2 separate regions of the Homo sapiens genome follow, and region 2 is linked to region 1. The links come from fine-mapping of genetic effects on gene expression. A gene starts in region 1. The other region holds a variant in brackets. All regions are shown on one strand. Distances are from middle to middle.

The links. PIP is the estimated chance that this variant, and not a neighbour inherited with it, causes the effect.
Region 2: its variant is the best candidate, but not a certain one, in a credible set for the expression of LINC01168 in lung (GTEx, PIP 0.50).

What each region holds. Positions count from the first base shown.
Region 1 is chr10:132,962,507-132,967,872 of GRCh38, reverse strand. LINC01168 (long intergenic non-protein coding RNA 1168) reads right to left here and starts at 2,339. Exons shown (of 3, transcript NR_046231.1): 1 at 1,966-2,339. LINC01166 (long intergenic non-protein coding RNA 1166) reads left to right here and starts at 2,584. Exons shown (of 2, transcript NR_120627.1): 1 at 2,584-2,687. RefSeq lists an enhancer at 5,143-5,366.
Region 2 is chr10:133,006,394-133,011,759 of GRCh38, reverse strand. It overlaps LOC112268067. Among named protein-coding and RNA genes, the nearest start is that of LINC01168, 44 kb to the right of the region's middle. RefSeq lists an enhancer at 3,022-3,849. The variant T/C (reference allele first, on the strand shown) is at 2,180.

The sequences.
Region 1 (5,366 bases):
ACAGGAGGGTGTGGTCCCTGGCTAGGGCTCCACCCCCACGGACCTAGGTGAGGACAGGAATTTCCTGCCTAAATGTTGCATTTCCCAAGACCTCCCCTGGCCTGTCACACCCCTGTCACATCCTGTGCCTATAAAAACCCTGAGACTCTAGCAGGCAGGCACACAGGCAGGTGGACATCAAGAGGAGCACATCAGTGGAGGAACACACGGGCAGCTGGACGTGGTGAGCAACGCTCCGACAGTCACCAGCACGCCAGAAGGACACCGACCGATCGGCAGAACGACGTGGAGTTTGGCCAGGGCAGTTGGAGAGACCAGGCTGCCAAGTGGCCTGACTCCAGAGGAAAACCTTCCCACTCCATCCCCCTCTGACTTCCCCGGAGCTACCTCCACGCAATAAAACATTGCAGTCATTCTCCAAGCCCAGGTTTGATTCGATTCTTCCGGTGCACCAAGGCAAGAATCCTGGATACGGAATGCCCTCTGTCCTTGCAACAAGGTCTAATTGAGCTGGTGAACATAAGCCACCTATAGATGGCAAAGTAAGAACATATGGTAGCACATGTCCACTGCAGCGTCAGGAGCTGGAAACATTCACCCCTAGACACTGCCATGGGGTCAGAGCCCCCCAGCCTGCTCGTCTGTATGCTCCCCTGGCTAGTTTGAGCATCGGGGCACTGAAGAAGCAAGCCACACCCCCATCGCACACCCTGCAAGGGGAACAAGGGAACCTTTCCCATTTCACTTATAAGACTGATCATAAGACCGATCAGGGCCGGGCATGGTGGCTCACGCCTGTAATCCCAGCACTTTGGGAGGCCAAGGGGGGCGGATTATGAGGTCAGGAGATTGAGACCATCCTGGCTAACATGGTGAAACCCCGTCTCTACTAAAAATAATAATAATAAAAAAACTAGCTGAGTGTGGTGGTGCATGCCTGTAGTTCCAGCTACTCGGGAGGCTGAGGCAGGAGAATGGCTTGAACCCGGGAGGCAGAGGTTGCAGTGAGCTGAGATTGCACCATTGTACTCCAGCCTGGGTGACAGAGCCAGACCCCATAAGACTGATCAGGAGGCCTGGCACCGAAGCTCACACTTGTAATCCCAGCACTTTCAGAGGCCAAGGCAGGAGGATTGCTTGAGGCCAGGAGTTCAAGACCAGCTTGGGCAACACAGCAAGACCCCATCTCTCCAAAAAATATTTTCTTTAAGTAGCCAGGTGTGGTGTTGCATGCCTGTAGTCCCAGCTATTCAGGAGACTGAGGCAGGAGGATCACTTGAGCCCAGGAGTTTGAGGCTGCAGTGAGCTATGATTGCACCACTGCACTGCAGCCCAGGAGACAGAGTGAGATCCTGTCTTAAACAAACAAAAACACAAAACAGATCAACCAAGATAAAAGAAAAATAAAGAGGGAAAAGCCTAAATTGCCAATATCAGAAATGAAAGAGGAAATATAGAGATTCTACAGTCACTAAAAGGGAAATCAGGGAACATGATAAACCAGTTTATGCCAATACATTTGGCAATTACAATGAAATGGGGGAAAGTCCTTGAATAATACAATTTACCAAAACCACCTTAGAATAAAATGGAAAATCCGAACGTCAACCCAGACTGAGGGGCACTCTGCAAAGTCGCTGACAAACACTCACAAAAATGTCAAGGTCAAGAAATACAAAGAAAGGCTACAAGAACTGTTGAAGAAGGATGGAAATTAGGACTTTGAAAAGGTCATAGGCCCGCGGTCCTGGATTAGATCCAGGATGTAGTGGGAAAAAGCTAAAGGGATGTTTAGGCACAATTGATGAAATCTGAGTATGGACTCTGGATTAGATATTTCATTGGTGTGAACTTTCCTGATTTTGACAGCTATACTGTGGTAATGAAAAGAAGTGTCTTTGTCAGGAAGTACACGCTGAGGTATTTAGCAGTAAAATGGCATAATTTCTTCAACTCTCAACTCACCCTCCGTCGATTCAGGGAAATGCGCATATGCAGACACAGGCACATGCAAACACATGTAAACACATGCAAACACATATAAACACGCGTGAACGGCAGAACAGCAGGAAGGTAACGCCAGAGAGAATTGGGAACAGCAGGAAGGTAATGCGTGAGGAGAAGTGGGAATGGCAGGAAGGTAATGGCATGAGGAGAAGTAGGAACAGCATGAAGGTAACGCCAGTGAGAAGTGGGAACAGAGGGAAGGTAACGTCGTTGAGGAGAAGTAGGAATGGCGGGAAGGTAACGCTGGTGAGAAGTGGGAAAGGCGGGAAGGAAACACCATTGAGGAGAAGTGGGAACGGCAGGAAGGTAACGCCGTGAGGAGAAGTGGGAATGGCAGGAAGGTAACGCCAGTGAGGAGTGGGAACGGTGGGAAGGTGACACCGGTGAGAAGTGGGAACCGCAGGAAGGTAACGCCGTTGAGGAGAAGTGGGAACGGAGGGAAGGTAACGCCAGTGAGGAGTGGGAACGGTGGGAAGGTGACACCGGTGAGAAGTGGGAACCGCAGGAATGTAACGCCGTTGAGGAGAAGTGGGAACGGAGGGAAGGTAACGCCAGTGAGGAGTGGGAACGGTGGGAAGGTAACGCCAGTGAGGAGTGGGAACGGTGGGAAGGTGACACCGGTGAGAAGTGGGAACCGCAGGAATGTAACGCCGTTGAGGAGAAGTGGGAACGGAGGGAAGGTAACGCCAGTGAGGAGTGGGAACGGTGGGAAGGTGACACCGGTGAGAAGTGGGAACAGTTGGTGAATTCGCCTAAGGCTCTAATGGCAGTTCCTTGTCGTATTCTTGTGACTTTTACATATGTTTGACGTTGTATCAAAATGGTAAGTTGGGAAAAACCCTCAGAGCAGCTCATCCTCAGACCTGCTGAACAGTCTTCAAAGACGCCAAACGGTGGCAGCCGCGTCTTTGTGAGGCTCTTCTGGCGACGGCGCTGGCGCGGACCTGCCCCGGCAAAGTGTGCGTGTCGGGAGGCAGCACCCGCCCGCCAGGCCTGGCCACAGTGGGAGGAGGGAGGTGGCGCAGCAGCCGCTGGGCGTCCTGGGGGTGACCTGGGCTCACAGAGGGCAGGGCCTAGGGCCACGCCGATGAGCCTGTTAAAGTGCCTCACAGTGTCATTGCGACTCATAACCATTCTCACCGTTGCTTATTTTACGTGGCACTTGCTTGTGTCCACCCAAACTGCCTGACCACGAACCCAGAAACCATGAATATTTTGTCCCCGACCGTTGGCCGCGCCCTAGAACCAGGCCTGGCCCAGGCTGGGTGGGTGGGTGTGAGGGATAAGAAGAGAAATGGCAGGCAAGTCGGTTTTAACATACAGAACAGGTGGCCACGCGGGACAGACCCTAAAGCCAAGGTTCTTTCTGACCTTATCATGAGGCTGATCCTTGGAGCGCAGGGAGGCGGCCGCAGGGTGAACAGTGCCCTCTGTGTAGGCTCCGGAGCAGAATGGTCATCATGGACAGGCCGCCGGCTGCTGGGCTGTGACTGTTCTGAGGCTGAAATGGGCAAACAGCCTTGCCTCCTCTCCACCTGCAGCTGCAAGCCTGGACAGTCGAGGCACCCCGGGAACCTCCCCTACGCTCATGTCTTGCTCGTGCATTTCTGAGCTCCCCGGCAGTTCAGCCTCCCTTGTATTAAATCCTGACAGGAAGCTTGGATTAAGACCTCGGTAGTGCTAAAGCCGTTGCTCTCTGAACCCATGCTCATGGGGGATGAATCTTGTCTCCCCAAAAGATATGTTCGAGTCCTAAGCCCTGGTTCCTACAAACGTGACCAGTTTGGAAACAGGGTCTTCGCAGATGTAAAAAGTTAAGGATATCATGATGAGATCATCTTGGATTTAGTATGGGCCTGAAATCCGGTGCCTGGCATCCTTATGGGAGAAAGGAGAGGCTTGCAAAGATGGAGGTGGGGCTGGGCGATGCTGAGGACACCCGGAGTCACCAGAAGCAGAAGCGCCGAGGAGGGATCTCCCTGGAGCGAGCAGCTCTGAGGGAGCGCAGGCCTACACCTCAATCTTGGACTCTGGCTTCCGGAACCATGAGGGAACAAGTGTCTTGTTTTAAGCTGCAGCCCAGGAATCCGCCTCCCTGTGGCTCACCAGTCCCCTTGGGCACATCTTCCCTCTCCTAATGGGGTAAAATCAGGGGCAATGTGCTGTGACCTGTGGCTTTGGGGGTGCTCTCAGGAGCGGCCTGGGGCTGAGCAGGCAGGGAGCCTCTACCTGTACCTACTGTGCCTGCTCCCTGTGAGGGCTGGGATGCCCCCCCGATGCTGAGCAGGTGCCAGGAATGTTGATGGATGGATGGATGGAGAGAGGGATGTTGATGGACGGATGGATGGAGGGAGGGATGTTGATGGACGGATGGATGGAGGGAGGGATGTTGATGGACGGATGGATGGAGGGATGTTGATGGACGGATGGATGGAGGAAGGGATGTTGATGGACGGATGGATGGAGGGAGGGATGTTGATGGACAGATGGAGGGAGGGAGGAATGTTGATAGACAGATGGATGAAGGGAGGGATTTTGATGGACAGATGGAGGGAGGGAGGAATGTTGATAGACAGATGGATGGAGGGAGGGATGTTGACGGACAGATGGAGGGAGGGATGTTAATGGACTTATAGAAGGGATGAAGGGACGGCCAGTCCACCACCAAGCAAGGATGAAACCCTAGATGCAAATCAGGCTCCGAGTCAACTTATGGGAGTTCTTTGATAAAAACACATATTCATAAAATGAGTCACAAAGGCCCTTGCATTTTTCATTTTCAATCTGCATTTGTAAACATCTTTACTCAGCTTCACTTTGTACAGGGAGGTCTTCGAAATTTTAATTTCAAGCTCAAAACATGAGGGCTGTTATTCTGGCCCACTTTTTTTTTCTTGGAAAAGATAGGAAGCTCTTCGCCAAAAGAAAAATAAGTCACAAGCTTAATAAATAACGAAGCACAAAGCAAACCACTCATGCTCAATTTTTCATACTTCTATGAATATTTCAGGAAATAATAGATGGCCTTAGAAGACTATCATAAGGCTGGCAGGGACCCGGAGCTGGGGACAGCCACCTTCTTCTCTCAACCCTCTTGATGTCATTTGTGTAAAATTAATGCAGGAGTTGGTTTCATTTTCTAATTCATCGAGAAAGGATATTTCTATTCACAATGGCATCTTCCAGTTACCCATCCAAGACTTCGGTGGTGCGGGGCAGGGGAGCCCCCAGGTGGGGCTGAGCCCCGACGGTTCTTGGCTTTACCCTGGAGGGAATTCAAGGGCAAGCCGCAGGTAGAAGGAAAGAGCTTTATTCAGGCGGCCGTGCCACAGCTCACAGCTCCCTGACTGCTCCTGCAG
Region 2 (5,366 bases), 44 kb before region 1:
CACATCACGCACGCTAACACACATCACACACTAACACACATCACACACTAACACACATCACACGTGCTAAAACACATCACACAAGCACACATCACACACACTAACACATCACACACACGAAAACACATCACACAAGCACACATCACACACACTAACACATCACACACACAAAAACACATCACACAAGCACACATCACACACGCTAACACACATCACACACTAACACACATCACACACTAACACACATCACACGTGCTAAAACACGTCACACAAGCACACATCACACACACTAACACATCACACACACAAAAACACATCACACAAGCACACATCACACACGCTAACACACATCACACAAACACACATCACACACACTAACACATCACACACACAAAAACACATCACACAAGCACACATCACACACGCTAACACATCACACAAACACACATCACACACACGAAAACACATCACACAAGCACACATCACACACGCTAACACACATCACACACTAACACACATCACACGTGCTAAAACACATCACACAAGCACACATCACACACACTAACATCACACACACGAAAACACATCACACAAGCACACATCACACACGCTAACACACATCACACACTAACACACACATCACACACTAACACACATCACACGTGCTAAAACACATCACAAGCACACATCACACACACTAACACATCACACAAGCACACATCACACACGCTAACACACATCACACACTAACACACACATCACACACTAACACACATCACACGTGCTAAAACACATCACACAAGCACACATCACACACACTAACAATCACACACACGAAAACACATCACACAAGCACACATCACACACGCTAACACACATCACACAAACACACATCACACATGCTAACAGGTAACACATTAACACATCACACACTAACACATCACACATGCCAAAACACATCACACATACTAACACACCACACCAACACACACCACACCCACCAACACACACCACACCCACTAACACACATCACACATGCTAACACATCACACACGCTAACACCACAGGCGGATGCAGGAACAACAGGCTCCTGCGGCCCAGCCTGAGCCAGCAGCTGGGCATCTCTGAGCCGGAGACCAGCTCCCACCGTGCCTTTCCCTGGCCCAGGCACCAGCAGCAGCCCTCAGAACCTGAGGCCCAGACCGGTGGGTGCAGCCTGGTCCCAGTGCTGCGGCACCCACAGCTGTGAGACAGACCTTCGGGGAGGGACCTCCAGCCGGCCCACGCGCCTCACACTGGACAGAGGGGAGTGTCCCTGGACACAGACCCCCGGCTCTGAACTGGACACAGGGAACATCTCCGGACACAGACCCCCGGCTCCAAACTGGACACAGGGAACATCTCCGCACACACCCCCCGGCCCTGAACTGGACACAGGGAACATCTCCGCACACAGACCCCCTGGCCCCGAACTGGACACAGGGAACATCTCCAGACACAAACCCCCGGCTCTGAACTGGACACAGGGAACATCTCCGCACAGACCCCCTGGCCCTGAACTGGACACAGGGAACATCCCTGGACACAGACCTCCTGGCTCTGGGCTGCATGATGAGGGACAAAGGCAGCCACCTCTGGTTCCTAAGGCGGAGGAGCCGCTGGCGTTCCCAGCACTGCCGGAGCTGGGGTGGGCTGCAGGGGCAAGGACCGCCCCGCCTGACCCCGCTGGAGAAGGCAGGCCGCACGGACCACAGAAGCGGCAGCATCGCGCTGGCCGTTTTCAGGCTGAAGGCAGGAGGGCATCCCAGGGATTTGCTTTTTGAAGCCGAGTTGTGTTGATTTGAAGCCACTTTCTCTTCCACGCTGTTTGTATCCACAGAACAGGCCGTCAGCCCAGAGGTGTCACCACGCACCGCCTGCCCCAGGCCCTGCCCCGTGCCGCACCCAGTGCTATGAGGAGTGCTAAGTATTGCCTCCTGAAGACAGGACTCTCGGGCTGCTCTCAGGAGGGAGTGTGTGCGGGGCTCGGGCGGTGGCAGCCGCTGAGCAGGGACTTCCCGGCCTTCCCTGCATTGGGGAGGCTGCATGGGCGTGTCTGGCCAACGGAACCTGACTTCCCGAGGTCCATTATCTCAGGTCCAGCCCCCAGGAGCCCTCCTAGCACCCCACCTCCTTCTCT[T/C]TCCTCCTCTGCTGACCTGGAGCAGAGGGGCCGGGGAGGAGCCCCAGGTGCCGGGGACAGGAGCCCTGTGCAGACCAAAATATTTTAAAGTTTTCTACTTCCTGCCCTGGGTCTGGTTCTGGGCCACTCCCGTGTGGGAGAGTCACGCCCTTGGTGGCCTGAGGGCGTCACTCACATTCAAGTGTGGGTAACTGGAAGGCTGGCTGGCGCCCTGAGAGAGGGTGGGGCCTGGCTGTCTCATGACCTCTGCAGGGACAGGGCCAAAGGGTTTTCTCCTGACACGTCAGTTTCTCTGGAGAAGAATCTGGCCCCTTCCTGCCTAGGAAAGATGGTGCTGCCTCTGTGTCAGCATGGGCCTCTCCTGGCCCTCCCCACGGCTGCTGTCTCAGAAACCACAGCCCCCAGGACCATTTTTCTCAGGTTAAACCTCCTTCCAAGGCGGGAGTGGGCATTCACAGACATGCTCTCCTGACTCTGAAGTTGGGGAAAGAGCCGTTCTCCTTCAGGCTTATTCTGTTCATGGTAATCACAGCCACATTGAGCCCCAGACATTATCATGCTTCTCTGCTTCTTCCCAAAGTGCGCTGAGGCTGCGGCTCGCAGTGGCGTGAGGGTCGTACCCATCTGCAGGGGCCTGGTGCAGCCCATACCTGATGTTTGCGTCCAGGCAGGCCGTTTGTGCTGGCGTGAGATGGACTCCAGCGAGGCTGTTGTGCTGGGCTTGGGAGTGTGACCTCGGTTGGAATTGCAGAGTCAGTCTGAGAGAATCTGTGCCTGGAGTCCAGGAGAGTGCAGGGGGATGCTTTGTCCACCCTGTGGCTCAGCCTGGCCCTGTGGGTCAGGAGATGTTCCCAGCTGCCGTGCAGTGAGCTAGGGGCCCCTCGAGTACACTCTGGGCAATGTCCGGGTGAGTAGCCCTTCCCCGCCCAGCTCCCGGGCAGCTGCTGAATCTCTTCCCAGGGCTCAGGCTGCTGTGTCCAGACCAGGACCCGGGTTTGGAGCAGAGCAAGCACTTTCGCACTGGATCTTCCAGAATTGCGGGGCCCGGCCTGACACTCAGCCTGTGGCTCTGTGATGTGAGCCGCCACCCCCTCACCAGATCGGGCTCTGCAGCAGTAGGCTCCTCTGAGACCCTCTCTCACAGGCCCGGGGGGCCCGGCCCTCTTTCCCTCCGCATCACCGAGGGAGGTGTGAGAGAGACGCTCCTGGGGGCCCGGCCCTCCTTCCCTCCCCGTCACCGAGGGAGGTGTGAGAGAGACGCTCCCAGATGGTGGCCCAGTGCCGGTCCTCCTGGTCTCGTCCAAACACCTCGCACACCACAGCTGCCCTGACGCTCGGAGCACGGCTGGCGGGACCCTCCAAACATGGTCCCGAGGCAGGGTCTTACCCATCCACCACTCCTGGGATGTGAGAGAAAGGGGAGGCCGGTCTAACCCAATATGTAGATTAAAGGAAAACATTCTAGGCAAGGACAGAGCACTTAGGAGGCTGGGAAACTTTCAGGAGAGAAAGATGAAGCTACGTTCATCAGTGTTGTAAATGTGAATGCTCTTCCTTCATTTTAAGCCTACTGGGTTGTTTTTTTCCACTTTTTTCTTTTGATGACAAGCATTCAGTTGCCGTCTCTCTCAAGTCCTAAGTGTGGGAAACATAACTAAGGCCGTCCCGTGATTACGGACAATTCTTCAGCTTACTGACAATCTGCCCCTCTGTTTCCAGCCCCTCTTTCCAGGGAGGTGCCAGCTGTGCCTAGGCTGTGGGGCTCCCTTTCCTGGGACCCTTGGCCTCTGGGTCAGGTTTGCCCAGAACCCCCGGACTTCCTGCCTCTGCCCAATAGAGGCCGCGGGGGTGGGGCTGTGTTTGGGAAGGTGCCCGGCCCTCTGCCTTGTTCCCAGACTGACTCTGACGTCACCTGGGCCTGGTGGGCATCTCCAGGCTGCCGCCCGGCCGATCTGGGTCCAGGCCTCTGTGCCGACTCACTTGTCCCACACCCTGGCTCTCAAAGGCCACCCAGGCCCTGGGAGGCCAGCTGTGCCCTGGTTCCTTGCCTCAAAGCCTGGCCTGGGTGTCCCCTCCAGGACAGCTTCCTCCCCAGGGACTGGCTGTCACCACTGCCGGCAGGTGAGATTCCTCTCCCTCTGCCATGTGCCTGGCTGGGGGCTGGGAGGGGAACAGGGACCTGGCAGGCAGGAATGTCCCATGTGACCGAGCGCCCTGGGCCAACTGGGACATAAAACCTCGGCCAGCCCCTCCCAAGAGTGGAGGCCCAGGAGCCATTCAGTTGGCCCTGGGTGAAGGTAAACTGAGGCCCGTGTGCTGGGAAGCCCCAGCCATCTCAGATCGGGTTCCGACTGTCACCCCTGTATGATGTGAAGGTACTGTGAATCCTGGGGAGCTCATTTCCTTTCCCCCAAATGTCACCTGCTCCCACCCTGAGCCCCCTGTGCCCCCACGGCAGGCGTGGCTCCTCACCCCCAGGGAGACGCCAAATCCTCCTGTGAGGTGTGCTGAGCCACATTGAGTGTCCCAGGGTCCCAGAGCCTTCTGGACAGCCAGGCAGGCGCGGCTGCTCACTGGGCTGTGGAATGAGCCGGGGCCCTGGCTGCGCTCTCCCTCGGGCCCTCCTCACGGCGCAGGACGACGTCCACCTGAGACCGCAGAGTACGTGGTCGTCAGAAGCTAAACCCTTGCCTGGCCCAGGGAAGGCCTGATGGACTCTTCGTCCTGTGGGGACCACGTGTCCACGGGAGGTCACTTGTCCACAGGAGGTCACTTGTCCACGGGAGGTGGCCTTGTGTGAGTGGAACTGTGTCCCTGGTTCCCGTCTCTCGCTCTTGGGTGTGGCCTTCCTGGCAGACAGGACCTTTCCGAAGGCAAGTGGGTTAAAGTTTAGTCATGGGGTGAGCTCTGGTCCAGCATGACTGAGGTCCTGAAGGAAAGGGACATGTGGACACAGACATGCACTGAGAGGAACGCTGTGGGGACGTGAGGACCCTTCCCAGCCCTGCGGGCACCTTGATCTCAGGCTTGCAGCCTCTGGGGCTGTGAGAGGACAAGGCCTGTGGCCTACGCTGCTGTGCAGACTCCCATCTGGATAGCCAGACCATCTCCTCCAGGGTCCGGAGGAAGCCCCGAGCCACACCAGACCCCCAGATGCTTCTGCGGCAGAGGGAAGTCCCTAAGAAGC